Linked DNA regions of Homo sapiens: region 1 is linked to region 2. A link means that fine-mapping ties the variant in region 2 to the plasma level of a protein whose gene starts in the linked region. Region 2 holds a variant in brackets. A gene starts in the other region. All regions are shown on their reverse strands.

Evidence for each region. PIP is the chance, under the fine-mapping model, that this variant and not a neighbour inherited with it causes the effect. The UK Biobank Pharma Proteomics Project read protein levels with antibody pairs (Olink). The fine-mapping took linkage between variants from a reference panel, not from the people measured, so its PIPs are less certain.
Region 1: it holds the start of ITGA11, and the variant in region 2 is fine-mapped to the plasma level of the ITGA11 protein (UK Biobank, PIP 0.96).

What each region holds. Positions count from the first base shown.
Region 1 is chr15:68,427,867-68,438,451 of GRCh38, reverse strand. ITGA11 (integrin subunit alpha 11) reads left to right here and starts at 6,289. Exons shown (of 30, transcript NM_001004439.2): 1 at 6,289-6,437. The coding sequence starts at 6,386. RefSeq lists a silencer at 4,288-4,582 and an enhancer at 7,129-7,888.
Region 2 is chr17:7,115,621-7,126,157 of GRCh38, reverse strand. No RefSeq gene overlaps it. Among named protein-coding and RNA genes, the nearest start is that of ASGR2, 6.1 kb to the right of the region's middle. RefSeq lists a silencer at 4,217-4,316 and an enhancer at 10,398-10,537. The variant T/C (reference allele first, on the strand shown) is at 7,813.

The sequences.
Region 1 (10,585 bases), not on the chromosome of region 2:
CCTCTCTGATCCTCAAGTTCTTCCTCTGTAAAAGGCAGGTATAATTGCACCACTTTGTAGGGCTGTCATGAAGATTAAAGGAAATGTGAGGAAAGCATCCAGCTCCATAAGTGATCAATAAATGGGAGGTGTTGTTTTGATTATTACCGTTCATGTTTGTCTCCTCTCCTAGATTAGGAGCTTTGTGGAGAGGCAATAACACATCTGGTTTGTCACTCTAACCCCAGGAGAGTGTCTGGTAAATGCATTAATAGAATGGCTCAACTCCTGCTCCCTTACCAAGTTGCACCCTTGGCCGTGAACCCTATGCACTGTGGGAATTCCTCACTCTGCTGCATGTCTTGTTTCACGTCATGACTGCTTCCCAAGACTGTCCTCTTTACCCCTGTGCACTGCATCCAGACCTTCACTTTCATGGCTTCTCTCAGACATCTCAGCCCAGCCCAGGACCAGGATGGAAGTCCTGGAAACCCCCTGGGTGGTGCTGAGGACTAAACGAAATGATGCAAGAGTTGCAGTTAGCCCATATTAACTTCTCAGTTAAAGGTATTCTTCACATCGCTGTAGTGACATTCAATTCTGATGTGGCTCTTCCAGTCCGGTCCAATGTCAAGGGTTTAGCCCAGCTAAACCCCATCAGAAATGACCTCTCAGCTGGAACATCCACTGACACCTCTAGACTTTTAAAGCAATTTCTATTCTCTCATACCCTTTGACATACTTTTTCTTCAAAGAGATGTTTCCTTATCCATCCTGCGTGTCTGTCTGTGCTGTGGCCATGCTCCTTCCCTTTGATATCTTTACTGCAAATGCTGTATATACTTGTGGCTTGAGAAATGGAGATCACAAAATAACTTTCTAGATTCAGTATAGGTTGTGTACAGGGCTTGATCCTTGTAGAAATTCCAGTCACTGACCCGCAGGCACAGGATTAGGAAGAATGGCAGCATCCACCCGGCTCTAACATTTCGGATTAGACTTTGAAGCGGAAAGTGGCTGGGACAAACATACACTACTGGTGTAAACACACTTCTTCAAAGTTAACCTGCTTCACTTTGTTGGTGGGGATGAGACCTGGCATGACAAATAAAAACCAAGGGACACCCTCTAAGCACACTTGTGCATGACAAATGCAGCCACTTCCTATCACAGAAGTCATTGGTCCAAAACGGTGGCATGCATCATTCAAACAGCAGATAACAAGGCAATCTGGTGGCTTTTTTTTTTTACTTTTTTTTTTCCTTTTCCCTTTGGGATTTATTATATCACTTTTTGGCAGAAGATGTGCCTTCTCAGTAACTGTAAGCTTGCTTACGCTTATCTTTGAAAAAAAGTTTGCATTTCCTAAGCACAAACCAACTGATAGTACAGAGAGGAGGTGGGATCCATGAGGGGGACCGCAAGGGCAGAAAGGAGCCTAGAAGCCAGGGAGTGCCTCAAGGTGGAGCCCCCAGGCTGATTATGGAGACTGGCTGCATTGGAGGTACCTGGGAGCAGGACAGAGAAGGGTGGAGAGAAATAACCAGAGAGTGGGAGAGAGTGGGGAGTATTGGAAAAGAAAGTTGGAGAAAGTGAGACAGAAGGCCCAAGATAGACACAGGGAGACCAGTTCATCCCAGTTTGTCAGAGATTGTCCCCCAGTGTTGACACTGAAGTCCTATATTCTAGAAAACCTCTTAGTCCCAGGCAAACCAGGACAATTGATCACCCAAGGTCAAAGTGGTGAAAAACTCAGAGAAAGAGTAGAAAGAGAGAGGCACCTCTCTGAAATGAGTGCAGATCAGGGCACCCCAATAACTTTTCTGGAAGAAGAGTGCATTGTGGCCAGGCATGGTGGCTCCTGCCTATAATCCCAGCATTTTGGGAGGCCAAGGCAGGTGGATCACTTGAGGTCAGAAGTTGGAGACCAGCCTGGCCAACATGGTGAAACCCTATCTCTACTTAAAAAAAAAAAAAAGATACAGACACACACACACACACACACACAAATCAGCCAGGCATGGTGGCGGGCGCCTGTAATCCCAGCTACTTGGGGAGCTGAGGCAGGAGAATCACTTGAACCCAGGAGGAAGAGGTTGCAGTGAGCTGAGATTGCACCACTGCACTCCAGCCTGGGTGACAGAGCAAGACTCCATCTCAAAAAAAAAAAAAAAAAAAAAGCATTGGTCCTAACTGAGCCAAGGCCTCTGTCATCAGTACTCCAGACCACTGCTCGTTCTCCCTCCATAGAGAAGCCAAGGTCCTCCCAGAGGAGCATGCTCAGACTGAAATCTTGGGAGCCACAGAAGTTGCCAATAGGACCTGTCTCTGAGCTGACCATGCTCATGCAGTCTTGGCCTGAAATACCCGCTCCCTCCACCCAGTTGGGATGTTGGGATTAATACTCAATCTGCTTTCAGAATGCTGGGTTCCAATCTCAGTTCTGCCTCATAGATGATGTGGAATCTTGCGTGAATCTATTGCTACTTTGAGCTTAGATTTTTTAGTAACCATGGATTTGTCTGTCCAGTATACTTTGCCATCCCACTTTTTCTGGTTCCTTTAGGAAAGTCCTCTCCTGTAATATGTGGTTTTGATGGGGCTGTCAGTCATGGCGCCTTTCTCTTCCCAAGTCATGGGGCTGGGTGTGTGTCCCAAACTGAGCTAATTATAGCACCATATCCTCCAGACACTAGGACTGGTTCAGGGGTGGGCATGAACCAAAGCCCTAGACTTTTCTGCTGGATCTACTAAAGGAAGGCTGTCTCTCTCCCTTCAGAATCTATGAAGTATAAGCTTGGGACTGCTAGACAGTCAGAGAAACTCTTCTGCTGCAGGAAAGGAAAATGGAGTGAAGCAAAACTAAGAGAAGACAGAGAGAGAGCAGTAACATTGATTTGAGACCCTTGATCCAGCCACACCTGCAGACAGAACACCTTTGCACTTCCTAGTTACATGACCTTTTACATTCTATTTTCTGCTTCAGTTTGATTGTGTTGAATTTCTGTCACTTGCAAGTGAAAGAATCTTCAACTATACAATCTCTTTACTATAAAAAATAAATACAATTTTGTACAAGATGAGTATTAAATTAGATCATGGATATGAAAGGGATTTCAAAAATAGTAAAACACTATACATAGCACTTGTACATTGTTGGTAGGAATCTAAAATGATGTAGCAACTGTGGAAAATAGTTTGGCAGTTCCTCAAATGATTAAACATAAAATTACTATATGATCAGCAATTCCACTCCTAGGTGTATACCCAAGAGAACTGAAAACATACATTCATACAAAAACTTGTATGAACATTATGCTAACATTATGCTATGTTAATGGATGGTAGAACTGCTACCAGCAAGACCGGCAGCACAAGTGTTCATAGCCACATTATTCACAATAACCTAAAGTGGAAACACCTAAATAAGCCTCACCTGATGAATGGATAAACAAAAGGGGGTAGATCCATACAATGGAATGTTACTTGGCAATAAAAAGGAATGAAATACTGATACATGTTGCAACATGGATGAACCTTGGAAACATCATGCTAAGGGAAAGAAGCCAGACTCAAAAGGTCACGTATTATATGATTTCATTTATATGCAACGTCCAGAATAGGCAAATCCATAGAAATAGATTTGTGGTTGCCAGGGACTGGTGGGAAGGAATGGGGAGTGACTGCTCATGGTTACAGGGCTTCTTTTTGGGGTGATAAAAATATTGTGAAATTAGTGAGGATGATTTTACAATCTTGTGAATATACTAACAACTACTGGATTCTATGGCACAGTTTATGGCATGTGAATAAATAAATCAGTTAAAACACTGTGTACATGTAAAGAGTTATTATTATTATTCAACAGAAATCACAGCTTTCATAAAGCCCTTCACCAAATTCTCTGCAGTTCTCCAGCCTTAGAGTCTGGATTGTGCACTTGTCACTCATATGCTGCTGCCTTGGGTGTGATTTAAATAATGTTTAATAGTGATGAAATAATAAATGGTTTTAAATAGATTAATAAATAACAGATTATGATTAAATAAATACATGGTTATGTCTTGTCTCCTCAGCTCCATCACCAGCTGCCCTAGTGTGGGGTTCTCCTTCCGTGTGTCCTACAGAGCACAGGGGCACAGTAGGCACTCTGTAGGATCTGTTGAAAGAACAAATGAGGGCACACCTCTCCCCTCACCCTCCCACATTACACAAAAGCACACAGAGTGATCCTCAGGACCCCCATTCCCCAGGCACCTGTGAGGACGGTGAAGGTGAATGAATGGTAGAATTGTTACCAGCGAGACCAGCAGCAGCGCAGCTAGGACAGCCACTACAGTGCGCCCCTTCAGCAAGCAGCATGCAGACTCTGAGCACAAGCTGCAGACCACCCACACGTCAGAGGTGCCTGGGGCACCCACCAGCATGCCCTGATCCTTGGGGAATTTGCATTCTTTGCACGTGCTCCAGGTCGTTCTGATGCACCTGGAGATTTGTGCAAGGCAGGAATGTGGGCTGCAGCCCATTCCCTAGCTGTAGGGGTGTTCTACATTCAACTCAGCTGGCTTAAACTCAACTCAGTGAAGAGGACTCACTGTCGTATAACTGATAAGTCCCAAGGGGAGTGGGGTTAAGGGGTGGCTTCATTCAGGAGTTCAACAAGATCCTCCATTCTGTCATCCAGTGTCCACCTCATCTCAAGGCCAGATCCTCCTTCCCTACCCTGACCCTGTCAACTTCTGAGCCTACAAAGTTCCTTGTCCCAGGCTGGGAGAGGAGGCAGGAGTGGGAGAGGTGAGGAGAGAGAGTTAGTTCATTTGTTTGTTTGTTCTAGGGGCTCTTTTAGAAAGGCAAGAAAGCTTGCTTCCCAAAAAAACTTTTTCTTTTGTCATATTGCCCTTTCTGAAACGATGGGCTGGGAAGGGCAACATACTGATTCATTTCAGCCTGAACCGCATGCCTCCTTACACACACACACACACACACACACACACCAGGGACGGAATCACCTTCCCCGAGTCTGTGGCTGAATGGGTGAGGTGAAGATGAAGTAAAACCCAGATAGCCAACCGAAAGATAGTGAGGTTGGGAGACGAGCACAAGCCCACTTCACTTATGTGAACCTGGGTCTTCTCAAACTCCAGCTCATCTTCAGGGGCCCTGACTGAACATCACCTCCTCTGGGAAGCCCTTCCAATACCTCCCAGATAGAAAACTCTATCCTTTGTGCACCCACACACCACCTGTACTCACCCATCCATCCACCCGCCCACCTACTTTGTTCCTGGGTGTTAGGGGCTGAGTACTCCATTGTGAACCAGAGATTTCTACCCTGATGGTGTTTTCAGTCTGCACAGGAGAGAAAAGTTAAATGATCACACCAATTGATGCCTTGCTTCTCTACTAAGCACAATGAAGAGAAATGAGGGAGAGCGGGCTGGGGAATATCAGCATGTGTCTGGGACTCAACCTGGTGGGGACGGGAAGAGGGGGTGAAGGAAGCCTTTCCTGAGAAAGTGGGGGAAGGGCGCTCTGCTGTGGCTTTCCCTGCATCTTGGCCTTCCTACCCTCTGCCTCGGCTTCCTCCATTGCTGGAAAAGCCTCCACAAGCGCGGTGGAGGTCCGGGGCCTGGATTTAAAGCTCTTGAGATAAATGTGCATTGAATTTAACTACCAGTGATTAGAAGAGGGAAAGAAGGTGGCAGGGTTACAAAGAAGAGCTTCACGTTAGGTTAAGAGGGGGTGCACGGTGTCCCTGGGTGCTTTGGAATGCCTCAGGTGTGGAGGCTCAGGGAGTGGCAGTGGAGGCGAATCTGCATGTATTCCAGGGTCAGAAGAAACACTAGCCTCTACAATTCAAGCCGCAGGGTGCAGGGAGACACGGGGATGTCTTAGAATGGACCTTTGAGGGACATCCACTCACTTGGCCAAGGGAGACCTGCGTTCCAGCAGGTGTTCCTGAGCCAGCTTGGGTACCCTCTGAGTTTTGTGAATCTCTTTTCACTGGGAAATGGGAATAAAAACCACTTTTCCTGAACAGAATCTGACTGAGGCGGTGCGGTGCTACACTGGTGAGGGGGTTCCCAGGAGCGGTTCTCTGGAGTTTTCTCCAGAGGCTGACGTGGGGTTGGCGGAGAAGGAGCGCTGCACAGGCGCGTCGAGGCAGCGCGCCGCCTGCCCAGGTGGCAGAGCGGCCGAGACTGGCCCAGAGCCCGAGCCGGAGTGGTGTCCGGCGCCCCTCCCCTCCGCTCGAGCCCTCCCACTTCCTCTGAATGAGCCGCAGCTGTCAGGGAGCCCGGCGCCCCGCGCAGTGCAGGCTGCAGGCGCCGCGCCGAGGAGGCTGCCGCTCTGGCTTGCCGCCCCCCGCCGCCGCTGCACACCGGACCCAGCCGCCGTGCCGCGGGCCATGGACCTGCCCAGGGGCCTGGTGGTGGCCTGGGCGCTCAGCCTGTGGCCAGGTAGGTGCCCACCCTCTGCCTCCCCTTGCCTCTCGGAGTCCCTCCCTGGGCCCTCGGGGCTTGGATCCAGCGGCCAGGATCGGGACGCGACCCTCCTCCCAGGGTCAGACCTCAGCTGCTCTTGGGGACGTGGGTCCCCCAGGGACTGGCCCCAGTCTAGCGGTTCAGTCAAGTTTCGCTAAAGAGGGAGGTGCGAAGGCTATTGAAAGCCGGGACTCTTTGGTGTGTTTGGGAAGAGTTGAAGAGGCTTGAGTTGAAAAGCTCCCAGATCTGGTGGCCCTCCTGGGCGCCTTAGGTGCCTCCAAGGCCCATGCCGGGGTTCCCGCACGGCTGCCAGGGGCACTCGGGTGTCCCGGGAGCGCCGAGGGCGCACGGCCCCGGCTGGGGAAGGGAATCAGCGCCAAGAGAGTGTGCCCTGGCTGCCCTCCTGCCTGGCTCCGGGGAAGCATCTCAAAGTTTGGAGAGCCGGGCGCGGCGGCCCCGGAGGGCTGAAGGGTGGGGGTGAGGGCTGCGCAGAGTGCCTCCGGCCAAAGACAGAGCAAAGCCCCGGGGCGATGGCCGGTAGGCGGGGGCTAGCTCTCGTCTGCCCGGCCAGCAGCGGCGGGACACAGTCGCGCAGCGCAGGACCCCCGAAACGTTACCTGACACCCGGGGTAGGGACCCGGCATTGCCTCCCAACCCGCGCTCGGAATTATGCAATTATTCAATAATCTGGGGAAAGCCGCCGTCGCCTAGACGCGCGCCGCCGCCTAATGCACTCCAGGTGTCGGGGCGCGGCAGGAACCTCCGGCCCGAGGGGCGCGCGGCTGGGAGCGGGAAGCCAGCCCTGAGCTCTCCGCCCTAGGGTACCCTGGCCCCGGCCGTCCCACACCGGGCTCCCCGGCTCCACCCTCCACGCGGGGCGGCTGCCAGTGATGCTGTTCTGCGGAAGACGGCCAAGTGCTCCGGCAAGGGCCAGCGCCTCGGTTACTGGCCGGGTGTGGGCGCTCAACCTTGCCTCCCCTTCTGCGTGGGCTCCAGGCCCGAGCTGGGGCCAGTAGTGGGGGTCAGATGCGGTGGTAGTGGGAGAGGTGCCCTCAGGGAGCTCAGGTGGAGACCCCTATCCCGCAGCCGCTTGCCCCAGTCCCCGGGTACCACGCGAAGCAAGTCCACCCTCCTGTCGGCCTACAGAGGAGCTTCTCAGAGGGCCCATGGTTGAAAGGGCCTCTGGCTAGTGGAATCCTAGAGTCACAGTTTAAAACAATCATTGATACATTGAGTTGTGGGGGCTTGGAAGGGAGAGCAGGGGAAGAACTGCCACCAGGCCAATATGCAACTAGAAGCCAGCTGCGGGAGGAGGCCAAGCCCATTTAGGTGTGTTTAGACAGGAGGGGAGAATCTTCTCCAGGAACTGTCCTCATATCACTAGGAGATCCAGCCACAAGAAAAGAGACGCACTCCTGTGTGACTCCAGATAGGTGGCTGCATCAGAACCTTGGGAAGGAGTGGCTGCCTTAGGGGCTAGGGACAGCCTGGACCTCAGGAAGCTAAGAGCAATGGCTTTGGAATCAGACCTGGCTTCCACTTCTGGCTCTGCACCCTGCTAGCTGTTCAATCTTGGACTGGTTATGCGACCTTTCCAACAGGTTTCCTTATGTGAAGAATGGAGACACAAATTCCGTGTCCTGTAAAGTTGTCAGGATGCACTAAGGCACTGTAAGAAAGGCCCTTAACACAGGGCTGGGTGCACAGTAGGCTTTAATCAATGGTTGTTAATGTTGTTGCTACTCAAGGAGGAGGGGGCAGAGAATGACATTAAAGGACCTCTGAAGACACAGGATTTGTGACTCAGAGCTCCGCTTATATGGCGAAAACCACTCCTGAGTTATGTCTGGTCAGTTGCATTCTTGAAATATGGGATTCATTAAACATATCAATCAATGTTGGAACAATGACATCTGCTTGCAAGGAGCTGGGGGTGGGGCCCTAGCGTGTGTGCAATCTGGGTCCTGCCTGTAACTGAGAATAAGCCAAGGCCAGGGAAAGCTAAACAGAGGCACCAGGGAGTGAATGGCTTGGGGAAACCAAGGGCTGGGTGTTCAAACAAGAGAAGTTCAATTTCAGCCAGATAAGCAAGGAAGGCTTCCTGGAGGAGGAGATATCATTTGAACTGGCCCTGGAAAAGTGTGTAGAGTGTGCATGGGCCTGAAAGTGGGAATGTTCATATTTTGGAGTATTATTTTCTGAGACTAGTTAAAGAAGATGATGAATATTTTAAAACCACTCTGGTCAGTGTGGACTTTGAAGACTAGAAGGGTCTCAGGGATCATTGGGTTCACTCCTCAGGCTCCAGGACAGGACTGATGTTGATACCTCATCCATGCATCACATGAATTCAATGTGAGGATTACCAGGAAGCTTGTCTACTGGTGATGGCAGTTTGGCTGGGCAGGGAACCTGTCAGAGGCCAAGTTGAGGGTGAGACCTCAGAGCATCTACTCTCCCAGAGCTCCAGCTGCAGGCTGGACAGCGTGATGGGGTAGACAAAACTAACAGGAAAGCCTAAAAAAAAAGTAATCAAGTCCAAAGAGAGAGATCCATTGACCAGAGCTTTACAGTCATAACCTATCTGTAGGAAGGGTGATGATTCTTAGAAGCATAATCTTTGCTGAGCACCTGTTATCTGCCAGGCCCCATAAAGACACAAAGTGAGATCAGACACAGCGTAAGGGTGGAGGCCCTGGAGTTTCACTGCCTGGGATTGGCCTAGCCCCTGCCGGTTAGGGCTCTGTGCTCTTGGCAAGTTACTCCATGGCTCTGTGCCTCAGTTTCCTCACCTACAAAGTGGGGGTAATAATAGAACTTAGAGTTATCACAAAGATTAATGCTTAGAAAGTGCCAGGCATGTATTAAGCACTCAAGGAGGTTGTCTTCTCCAACATCATCAGCAGCAGCAGTAGCACTCAAGATATTGACTATTCAGGATCTAAGGACACAGAGATATAACTTTCAAACTCAAGTTCTCAAGAGAAGTTTAGAGGAAGTACATTGAAGAATCAGAGGAGACATACATGCCAGGGCCCCAAATGAGTGAAGACTTTCCTAGTCCCTCCCGCAAAGCCCTGGCCCAAACTCTTGATCATAATAAGAACTCAGGGTTGTTGTTTTGTTTGTTTGTTTACCATCGGGGCTGTCTTGAAGTCAGTATGCTCTTGATGTGGGTGTATTGTGGTGTGGAAAAGGAGAAGGCCCATACCATGCAACATGGCCCTTGTGGGTAGGGGTCCTACCCAACAGAAAGCAACCTGTGGAAAAGCACAGTGCTAGACACCACAGGTGTACAAAGGCTCCAGAGGTCCAAGACTTGCTCCCAGCCTCTCCTTCCCAGTGGAGAGCAGGGAAGAAGGGAAAGTTTGTCACTTTGCCACCCCATTGCCCACTTTGACAGCCAAGCCCCTCAGCTGCCATTAGCTGAGGAGCTTCTGGATCTTTCCATATCACAAGCAGACCCTGGAGTCTCACTCTTTTTCTGCTTACTCACCATGACCCCATCTCTACCCCACAGTGGACCCCCAGAGAGGGGATGTCTATCTCCATGCTCTTCCCACCATTCCCAGCCCATCCACACAGGGCTGTGAGCCCTGGAAGAACTCAGACAGTATCTTACCTCTCAACCTTGCCCTCTCTGAACCTCTTTTTCCACCCTCCTGTAGTGGGGAGCTCTTCCTTCTTCTAACAGCAGGGACCTTCCCTTGCATTCTCCCTCCCTTCCACCAACACCCCCAGCTCCTATCACTTAGGATAAAAATATGTTCTAAGCTGAGCTGGCTTTGCTCTTGCTATGCAGAAGGGAATTTGGGGAATTTTAAAAGCCCCTGTTTCTTCTCCACAATGCCTGACTTTGGGTGTTATTGTCTCACCATGGGCTTCCAGAGCTTACTTTGGGGGTCAAAGTCGAACATTGTTCTAGGATCCATCATAACCCTCCCCAGGCAGTGATGGGCTCTGGCTGACTCAGGGAAGGTCAGCTACAAAATGAGCCTTAAAAATCCTCTAATATGGTTCAAAAATGGTATCTCTGCTGATCCTCATCACTGAAGTCCCCTTCCAGGCCCACCCACTCCCCACCAACTGTATGTAGGCTACCACCAAGGATTCATAGCCATTTG
Region 2 (10,537 bases):
TGGGTTGCTGAGCAGGAACACCCTTCACCTTAGCTAGGGTTGGCTCTTTCAGGCTTTGTTTGAGCAAGGTAATTCTGAGGTCCTTGGCCCTCAGAGAACTCCAGTTAGGACACAACATTCCCTTTACCTATTTCTTTTTTTTCTTTTTTTTTTAGATGGAGTCTGGCTGTCACCCAGGCTGGAGTGCAGTGGCACAATCTCAGCTCACTACAACCTCCGCCTCCTGGGTTCAAGCAATCCTCCTGCCTCAGCCTCCCAAGTAGCTGAGACTACAGGCGTGCACCACCATGCCCAGCTAATTTTTGTATTTTTAGTAGAGAAGGGGTTTCACCATTTTGGCCAGGCTGGTCTCGAACTCCTGACCTCAAGTGATCCACCCACCTCAGCCTCCCAAAGTGCTGGGATTACAGGCGTGTGCCACGGACAAAGTTGTTAACGTGTAGTGTCTGGTTTCACTCTGAGATTCCTGGAAGCTAAAATGAAAAAGGAAACACAATTACGGGATGCTTATTATCAGAGGGGAAAAAACGCCCTGGCTTTATTTGGGGGAACTAAGAGAATATGAAGTGTGAATTTTTTTTTTTTTGAGCTGGAGTCTTGCTCTGTCGCCCAGGCTGGAGTGCGGTGGCACAATCTCGGCTCACTGCAAGCTCCGCCTCCTGGGTTCACGCCATTCTCCTGCCTCAGCCTCCCAAGTAGCTGGGACTACAGGCACCCACCACCACGCCCGGCTAATTTTTTGTTTTCATATTTTTAGTAGAGACGGGGTTTCACCATGTTAGCCAGGATGGTCTCGATCTCCTGACCTTGTGATCCGCCCGCCACCACGCCCGGCTAATTTTATTTTGTATTTTTAGTAGAGACGGGGTTTTGCTGTGTTAGCCAGGATGGTCTCGGAAGTGTGAGTGTTATGAGTTGCTGCTGATGCTTGGAGCAGTGAAGGCCCCTGATACTTTCTGATGAGCATGAGCTAATGAATGGTGTTGTGTTTGTTTCAGAAACTAGAGGCCAGTTTCTAGATGAAGGCATTGGAATAGGAAACAAAGGCTTCATACAGCTTGGAGAAATGTTTTCTTTGTATTTATGTATCTATGTATCTGTCTATGTATTTATTTATATCTTTTAGAGACAGGGTCTTGCTTTGTCACCCAGGCTGGAGTGCAGTGGTGCAATCACGGCTCACTGCGCCTTGACCTCCTAAGCTCGAATGAGATGTTTTTTGAGATAGAGTCTTGCTCTGTCACCAGGCTGGAGTGCAGTGGCACCATCTTGGCTCACTGCAAACTCTACCTCCCGGGTTCAAGCAATTCCTCTGCCTCAGTGTCTCGAGCAGCTGGGATTACAGGCACCTGCCACTACGCCTGGCTAATTTTTTTTTTTTTTCAGTAGAGATGGGTTCACCATGTTGGCCAGGCTGGTCTCAAACTCCTGACCTCAGGTGATCCGCCCACCTCGGCCTCCCAAAGTGTTGGGATTACAGGGATGAGCCACTGCGCCCGGCCTGTTCTCTGGATTTATGTGGCAATATAAGAGGGAGCTGGGGCAGCGACTTGTCCTCTATGACATTTTGCTCTTGTAGTTTGCAGCCAAGCTTGTAGCACTTCTGCCTTCTTTAGAGTGTGCCCTGCTAAGGGGAGCCACAGTACTGCAGAGGCCTCGGCTCACTCTGGACCTGGCATCTGAGGCACTTCTTGCAGACCTCAATACCATTGAACTTGGCACCCCAAATAGCCCTGTCCCCCGCTCACGCCACCTGAACAGGGTAGGGATATTTGTGGCATTCCCTGGGGGTCCTGTTTGTTCCACACATAGGGCTCCTTCTGCCTCCCTCCACAACAGAGTCCCGGGCTGTTCTGCCCTTCGCTCACCCTTATCCACACTGCACCTTGCAGAGATGCCTCAGAGTTTGTGGCATGTGAGGGAAATCTTTTCTTAATTTCCAATAGTTATATGAATATTTTCTCTATTGAATTATTACTACTGTAATAATAGGGAACATATTGGGAAGTTGTGTGGAGAGAATGTATTAGTCAGGGTTCTCTAGAGGGACATACTAATAGGATAGATGTATATATGAAAGGGAGTTTATCAAGGAGTATTGACTCACACGAACATAAAGAGAAGTCCCACAATAGGGTGTCTGCAAGCTGAGAAGCAAGGAAGCCAGTCTAAGTCCCCAAATCTCCAAAGTAGGGAAGCTGACAATGCAGCCTTCAGTCTTTGGCCGAAGGCCTGAGGGCCCCTGGCAAACCACTGGTCCAAGAGTCCAAAAGCTGAAGAACTTGGAGTCCGATGTTCCAGCACGGGGCACAGATGGAGGCCGGAAGACTCAGCCAGTCTAGTCCTTCCATGTTCCTCTGCCTACATTTATCCTACCTGAGATGGGAGCTGATTAGACAGTGCTCACCCAGGTTGAGGGCAGGCTGCCTCTCCCTGTCCACTGACTCAAATGTTAATCTCCTTTGGCAACACCCTCACAGACACACCCAGGAACAATACTTTGCATCCTTCAATCCAGTCAAGTTGACACTCAGTAGTAACCATCACAGGGAAATACACAGGCTCAGGTATTCATCCTGGACTGGATGACGCCCTCCTTGTCTTCCTCTTGCCTCTCTGGCTGCACCTTCCCCTTCTCCTTTCCAGGTCCATGTGGGTGTTTTTCAGGCTCTGTTCTAGACCCTTCTCTCCGCTTCCCTGGCTTTGATTGCCTTTGTTGGTTCCCAGTCTCCGGCCCATCTATGTCCAACTGCCTTCTAGCCAGCTCCACCCGAATGCACCAACAGCACAAGAAACCCATGTCCCAAACAAAACTCCGCGACTCCTTGCCCTGCTGGCAACCAGCTCTCCCACGGGCTCCTTGGCCGATGAGTGGCTTCACCAGCCACCTGCTTGTTTCACCCCGAAAACTGGCTCTCCCGGGTTCCCCTCTCCTCTGCTTCCCACAGCCGATGTTTACAATGGTTGCTGCTAAGTCCACGCCTCTCCTGTGGTTGGGCTTCCGAGGGTTCTTGCTAACATCCTTTAGAATACAGGGACAGGGGCTGAGTGCGGTGGCTCACGCCTGTAATCCCAGAACTTTGGGGGCCGAGGCAGGTGGATCACCTGAGGTCAAGAGTTCCAGACCAGCCTGGCCAACGTCGCCAAACCCCATCTCTACTAAAAATACAAAAATTAGCTGGGTGTGGTGGCAGGTGCCTGTAGTCCCAGCTACTTGGGAGGCTGAGGCAGGAGAATCGCTTGAACCTGGGAGGAGGAGGTTGCAGTCACCTGAGATCCTGCCACTGCATGCCAGCCTGGGCGACAGAGCGAGATTCCATCTTAAATAAATAAATAAAAATATAATACAGAGGCAGGAAAGTACAATTACTGGTCAGCTTTCCTCGAACTAGATCCCTCCCAATGCCAGGTGACCATTGGACAAAGTGGAGAGGGGATTTATTAATATTCTACTGCTTATTTCCCAAGATGAGGATTAGCTCTTAGCCACTGCTGTCTTCCAAATGCAGTTACATCAGCATCTTTAGTAAAAAAACGAAAATGAAACGTTCACATTACATGTCTATGTAAATGTTATGTCCTGCAGAACCTAGTACTCTATTGTCATAACATTTCTCTTCTTGCATAGTTTCTTTTGCTTTTACTGGAGATATGCCAGTTATTCTAATCTTGCAATGTTTTCCTTAGGGCAGTTTTCTATTTCTTAAAATAAAAACTCTCTAAAATAAGATTCTTCTTTCTCAGGAGGACTTCCTTTGTGGCGTTCTTAGCCACAGTCAGTGTCTTGAGTGTTAACTTAATTCGAATTATTTGCTAAGTGTTATTCTAGCAGACTTACAAATCCCAGTTATTCCATCATGCCCATAGGAGAAGAGGAAAGGGCCAGTGCCCCTCTTCTGATTTTTAAACCGGCCCTATAGTTCCACAGACAGTTTTGGATAAACATAGAACTTGACCCTTCTGCCGTTAAAGCTTGAAACTCATATATATATATATGTTTATTTTTTTATTTTTTGAGATGGAGTCTTGCTCTGTTGCCCAGTCTGCAGTAGGGTGGCGTGATCTTGGCTCACCACAACCTCTGCCTCCCAGGTTCAAGTGATTCTCCTGCCTCAGCCTCCCGAGTAGCTGGGATTACAGGCGCCCACCACCACGCTCGGCTAATCTTTGTATTTTTAGTAGAGACGGGGTTTCACCCTGTTGGTTAGGCTAGTCTTGAACTCCTGACCTCGTGATCCACCGGCCTTGGCCTCCCAAAGTGCTGGGATTACAGGTGTGGGCCACTGTGCCCGGACGAAACTTATATTTGTTTGATTTGAGTTCCTTCCTCAGGAAAGTACCTTCAGTCCTCTCAAAAACGTATAGTAGGTCAGGAGTTCAAGACCAGCCTGACCAACAAGGTAAAACCCTGTCTCTACTAAAAATACAAAATTACCCGGGCGTGGTGGCGGGTGCCTGTAATCCCAGCTACTCAGGAGGCTGAGGCAGGAGAATTGCTTGAACCCAGGAGGCAGAGGTTGTGGTGAGCTGAGATCGTGCCACTGCACTCCAGCCTGGGTGACAGAGTAAGACTCCGTCTCAGAAAAAAAAAAGAAATGTATGGAAGAACTGAAACTCACCAGATCACGCACCAAATGCCTCCTTGCACCTCCCTAGTTCCTGTTTTCTGACACATTGTTACATTTCTTCCCTGCTATATAACCCCTGGTTTTAGTCAGTCCAGGAGATGGATTTGAGACAGCTGCCATCTCTTTGGCTGCAGCACCTGATTTAAAGCCTTCTTCCTTGGCACTACTCATCATCTCAGTGATTGGCTTTCTGTGTGCAGCAAAGCCGCAGGACTTAGACTGAACTCCTGATGTTTCGCTAACAATTTCTTTTTTTTGAGACAGAGTCTGGCTCTTTTCTGCCAGGCTGGAGTGTAGTGGCGCGATCTCGGCTCACTGCAATCTCTGCCTCCCGGGTTCAAGTGATTCTCCTGCCTCAGCCTCCCGAGTAGCTGGGACTACAGACACCCGCTACCACGCCTGGCTAATTTTTGGTATTTCTAGTAGAGTCAGGGTTTCACCGTGTTAGCCAGGATGGTCTCGATCTCCTGACCTCGTGATCCGCCCACCTCTGCCTCCCAAAGTGTTGGGATTACAGGCGTGAGCCACCACGCCCGGCCGAAAGTCAGCAGGAATTATAAGTGCCCACCTAGGTTTCCACAGTACATGAGAGAACAAGATGGGGAGTTAGTAAACGTTCTCACTTTGACGGCTTATCATAGGAGAGTCTCTACTGCTTCCTTAAACTCATGTTCTTTTTTTTTTTTTTAAAGACCGAGTTTCGCTCTTGTTGCCCAAGCTGGAGTGCAATGGCGCAATCTTGGCTCACCGCAACCTCTGCCTCCCGGGTTCAAGCGATTCTCCTGGCTCAGCTTCCTGAGTAGCTGGGATTACAGGCACCCACCACCACACCCAGCTAATTTTGTATTTTTAGTAGAGACAGGATTTCTCCATGTTGGTCAGGCTGATCTTGAATTCCCCACCTCAGGTGATCTGCCCGCCTTGGCCTCCCAAAGTGCTGGGATTACAGGCGAGAGCCACCATGCCCAGACCTTAAACTCATGTTCTTTATGGTGACTTGCATTTCCAAGGCCAGGTTCTGGAATTTCACCAGTTTGCATTATAAGAAAAAAAGTCAGCCTGTAGGCAAAAAATACAGAAAAAGCTGAATAAGATTTTCTTTCCTAATAATGAAAAAGGCTTATACTGAGATGTTCTTCTACATGTGTTGTTTTTGGATAATTTCCTCACTTTCTGGGGTAATTCCTCACATGGGAGTAGGAGATAAATAGTCTGAGAACTGGAATATCTGACAGTTCTGTAGCCTCCCCTCTCGTGCCATGGATCATTTGAGTCTACAATTCTAGGTTGAAAAAAATTTTCCTTGGAAGTTTGAAGGCATCATCCTGTTGTCTCTTCGTGTTCAATATAACAGCTGAAAAATGAAATCCATTCTGATTCTTGTTTCTTTGTAGGTGATTTACTCCCACCCCTGGTAGTTTTTGGAATTTTCTGTTTATCCCTGGTATTCTGAAATTTCATGGTGACACGCTTTGGGTCATTTTTGAATGAATGTGCTCGGCTGGGCTATTACTAGAATACCTAAATCTGGAGACTTATCCTTTTTAATTCTAAGTACCAGCCTTGTATTCTTTCTTTCATCTTTTTCTTCCTTTTCTTCCTCTTATTTATCTTCTAGAACTTCTATTAATTGGATGTTGGTTCTTTGAACATATTGTTTGTGTTATTTGGGGAGGTTTTATGGGGCTAATAAAAAAAAGAACCCTATCTTTTCCTCTTAAGTTTGAAATCAATTGAGAGCCAAGACACAGTAGACAGATGAGCGGATATCAAAATGTTAGCATAATTACTGATAAGCAACAAGGAGGATTTGACTTAAAACCTTAGATCAAAAAACCTTGTAATTAGTTCATCCAATAATTAAGCAGATGTATCCACCCAGTCACAGGCAGAGGAGGGCAAAGCAGGAGCAGCTCTGTGCCGCCTGGCAGAGAGTAGAATACAAGGTGTGCTTCTTGTGGGCAGAAAGACACCAAAGGGAGCCCCCCCAAGGGGCGGAGCCAAGCATGCCAATCAGTCAGTTTCCTCCCCTGAGGAAGAGTGGGTTAAGAAGGGGAGTCTGGGCGGGGCGCGGTGGCTCATGCCTGTAATCCCAGCGCTTTGGGAGGCCGAAGCGTGCGGATCACTTGAGGTCAGGAGTTCGAGACGAGCCTGGCCAACATGGTGAAACCCCATCTCTGCTAAAAATACAAAAATTAGCTGGGTGTGGTGGTGAGTGCCTGTAATCCCAGCTACTCAGGCGGCTGAGGCAGAAGAATCACTTGAACCCGGGAGGCGGAGGTTGCAGTGAGCCGAGATCGCGGCCACCGCACTCTAGCCTGGGCAACAAGAAGGAAACTCTGTCTCAAAAAAAAAAAGAAAGAAAGAAAAAAAAGAGAGAAAGGGAGTCTGGAGATTGTCTAGTTTCCCTAGTGGGAAATATATTCAGTAGCATGAGACCAGAGAAAAAATAATTTCTCCCAATTTAACTTTTATCATTTAAAAAAAAAAAACCTATGTCTTTTTTTTTTCCTGGAAGATTTTCTAAATTTTATGTTTCAGAGCTTCTATTAATTTTTCTGGAGTTAACAACATGTATATATTTTTTAACTTTCAAAAGGTCTCGTTTTCTGAACAAGTAGAACATACAGGAAATTCTGGCTTATCAACAAAGTGAATTCAGGAAAGCCAATAGAAAAACTGGTAAAGGATATGAAAAGGCAATTCATGCAGGAGGAAACCCAAATGATTAATAAATCGATGAAGAAATGTTCAAACCCACTGTTAGCCAGAAATGCAAAATAAAAGAACAAGGATATGGCATCAGCTTGGCAACAATTGCGATGTTAATAATATCAAGCGACAAAGCCAAAAAGAGAACCCTCGTATACTGCTGGTGGGAGTGTGAACTGGCAGAGCCATTCTGGAAAACAGTCTGGCAGTCCTGAGTGGAATTAGGTATGGCAATACTCTGCGAATGAGCAATACCATTCGGGGATATAGTTTCCTTCCTTCCTTCCTTCCTTCCTTCCTTCCTTCCTTCCTTCCTTCCTTCCTTCCTTCCTTCCTCCCTCCTTTCCTTCGTTTCTCTTTTCTTTTCTTTCATTCCTTTTTTTTTTTTTTTTTTTTTTTTGAGAAAGGGTCTTGCTGTTGCCCAGGCTGGAATGCTGTGGTGCGATCATAGTTCACTGCAGCCTTGAACTCC[T/C]GGCCTCAAGTGATCCTCCCAACTCCAGCTTCCCAAGGTGTTGGGATTACAGGCCTGAGCCACCATACCTGGCCTGGATACAGTTTCAAGAGAAATTCTCACCTAGGTCCACATGGGAACACGATGAGGACATCAGTCGTCATGTTAATTGTGATAGTTGTTGGCAACAACCTGAGTTCATTATTAGGGGAAATAAACTGTGATGGATACACACCATTGAATACTGTGCAGCAGTTCATAGCAACAAACCAGATAAACAAATAGCAATGTAACAATCCATTGTAACAAATAGCAATACAAATAGCTCTAAAAAATTTCTTGTTGAGTGAAAAAGATCAGAAACAAATGAGATATATGAAAGTTCTGTGTATGTAAATACAGAACAGATAGACATGCAAACCCCATCACATATTTTATAAGGGTACCTACATATTTAGTAATATATATTGTTTCAGCTATCTACCGATGCATAATAAACCACCCCAAAGCTCCAGTGGCTTAAACCAACTGTTTTTTCTTAAGATTCTCTGGGTCAGAAATTTGGGCAGGGCTAGGCTGGGCGGTCCACGGGGTATTGGTTGGAGTGAAACACTTGGATACAATCAGCTGGTGACTGGGCTGCCCTGGAAACTCCCAGAAGACTTTGCTCACATGTCTGGGGCCTCAGTGCACCTCTGTGTGGCCTCTTTCTCTCTCCATGTGCTGTCTTATCCCCCAGGACTCTCTCTGGCAGGATAGTTGGACTTCCTCATAGCATGGTGACTGACTTCCAAGATTGAAAACTGAAGCTACCAGGTTTCTTGAGGTCCAGGCCCAGAACTGGCAGAGTGTCATTTCTAGTGCTTTCTGTTGGTCAAGGCAAGTCACAGGGCCAGCCCAGACTCAAGGGGAGGGGAAACAGACTCTACCCCTGGCTGAGTGGTGTGACTTGCACATGTGGTGAGGGGAGAAATTGATGGGCACCATCTGTGGGGACTGTCAGGGCACTCAGACTTCTGGCTGCCTATAGAGAGTAGAGAGTATAGAATTAGTGAGGGGAAACAGGATGGGAGCTAGGGAAGAACGAAACAGGACAAAGGTTTAGCTCAGACCTCTGAGGAAGACCTAGTGTCATGAAGTAAGGAATATGACCAATCTAACCTTTGTGTCTGAGGTACAAATAAACCCCAAATCAAAATCAACCAAATAAGGCCGGGCGCGATGGCTCACGCCTATAATCCCAGCACTTTGGGAGTTTGAGATGGGCGGATCACCTGAGGTCAGGAGTTCAAGACCAGCCTGGCCAACATGGTGAAAATACAAATAATTAGCCGGGCGTGGTGGTGCATGCCTGTAATCCCAGCTACTCAGGAGGCTGAGGCAGGAGAATCACTTGAACCCGGGAGGTGGAGGTTGCAGTGAGCTGAGATCGCGCCATTGCATTCCAGCCTGGGTGACAAGAGTGAAACTCTGTCTCAAAAAAAAAAAAAAAAAAAATCAATCAAAGAAAATAGGATTCCATAACCCAAAACAGAAAACCTCCAACAATATGGAAACTTCAGAAATAGTCCAAGTACATGTTAACTTCTAAGTTAAAATGATTTTCAAATAGGGAGAAAGAGAAGGACGCAGATGAGTCTGGCTTTCTCTGTCCCTTCTCTCCCTGTAGTGCCGTGAGTGGGGGTGTAAGTGACAAGCCCTGAAACGTGGAATTGGTTCAGTCAAAGGGGTGGCCAATGAGGATGGCCCCATCCCTGGTTGGCAGTTGGCAAAGCTTGACATGCAGTAGACAATCCATCTGTGAAGCTCTTACCTGTATCTCAGGACTAAATCCACATGCCCCTTAAGATGGGGGCTTCACAGCAGTGTTGTTCAGACTTTGAGTTGTGACCCATTAATGGACTGGGAAACTCAACAGAAGGCACGTAGTAAGGTGAGCATTGTCCCATCAAACTTTAGTGTCAACCGTGTATTTCCAAACGCATTATTCTATTCACTCACTCACTCAGTAGATACTTGTTGAGCAGCTACTGTGTGGCAGGCACTGGGGATCCAGGAGAAAGTAACACATACAAATGCACCTGTGTGTGCGGGTGCTTGTGTGTATGTTCTGGATCACAGCATGAAATTCGTCTCTCGCTGTGGGCTGCAGTCAGAGAGCCCAGCGGCTGCTGCTGCCTGGTGGCTGGGTGGGAATGTCAGGGTACTGGGGGGGTGGCTACTTCCCATGTGGGTCAGCAAGTTACAAGAACAGAAAAGGCCTCTGTTTGAATTCCTTTTCGGCACCCGGGGAAACGAGCAGCTTTATAAGAAACCCTGCCCGTAGCCATCCGCCCAAGTTTGGTGAGGGTCAGAAAATCATGCACAAAAACTGTGTTTTCTTTCCCGAGCTATTGTTAGCGCAAGTGTAGACAGTCAGCCACGTTCCTTGCTTCATGGAAGCCAGTCTTCCTCGTAGGACCATGAAGACCTTTTCTTTTCTTTTTCTTTCTTTCTTTTTTTTTTCTTTGAGATGGAGTTTCTCTCTTGTTGCCCAGGCTGGAGTGCAATGGCGCAATCTTGGCTAATGCAACCTCCGCCTCCCAGGTTCAATCGATTCTCCTGCCTCAGCGTCCTGAGTAGCTGGGATTACAGGCCCCTGCCACCACGCCCGGCTAATTTTTGTATTTTAGTAGAGACAGAGTTTCACCATGTTGGCCAGGCTGGTCTCGAACTCCTGACCTCAGGTGATCCACCCACGTCGGCT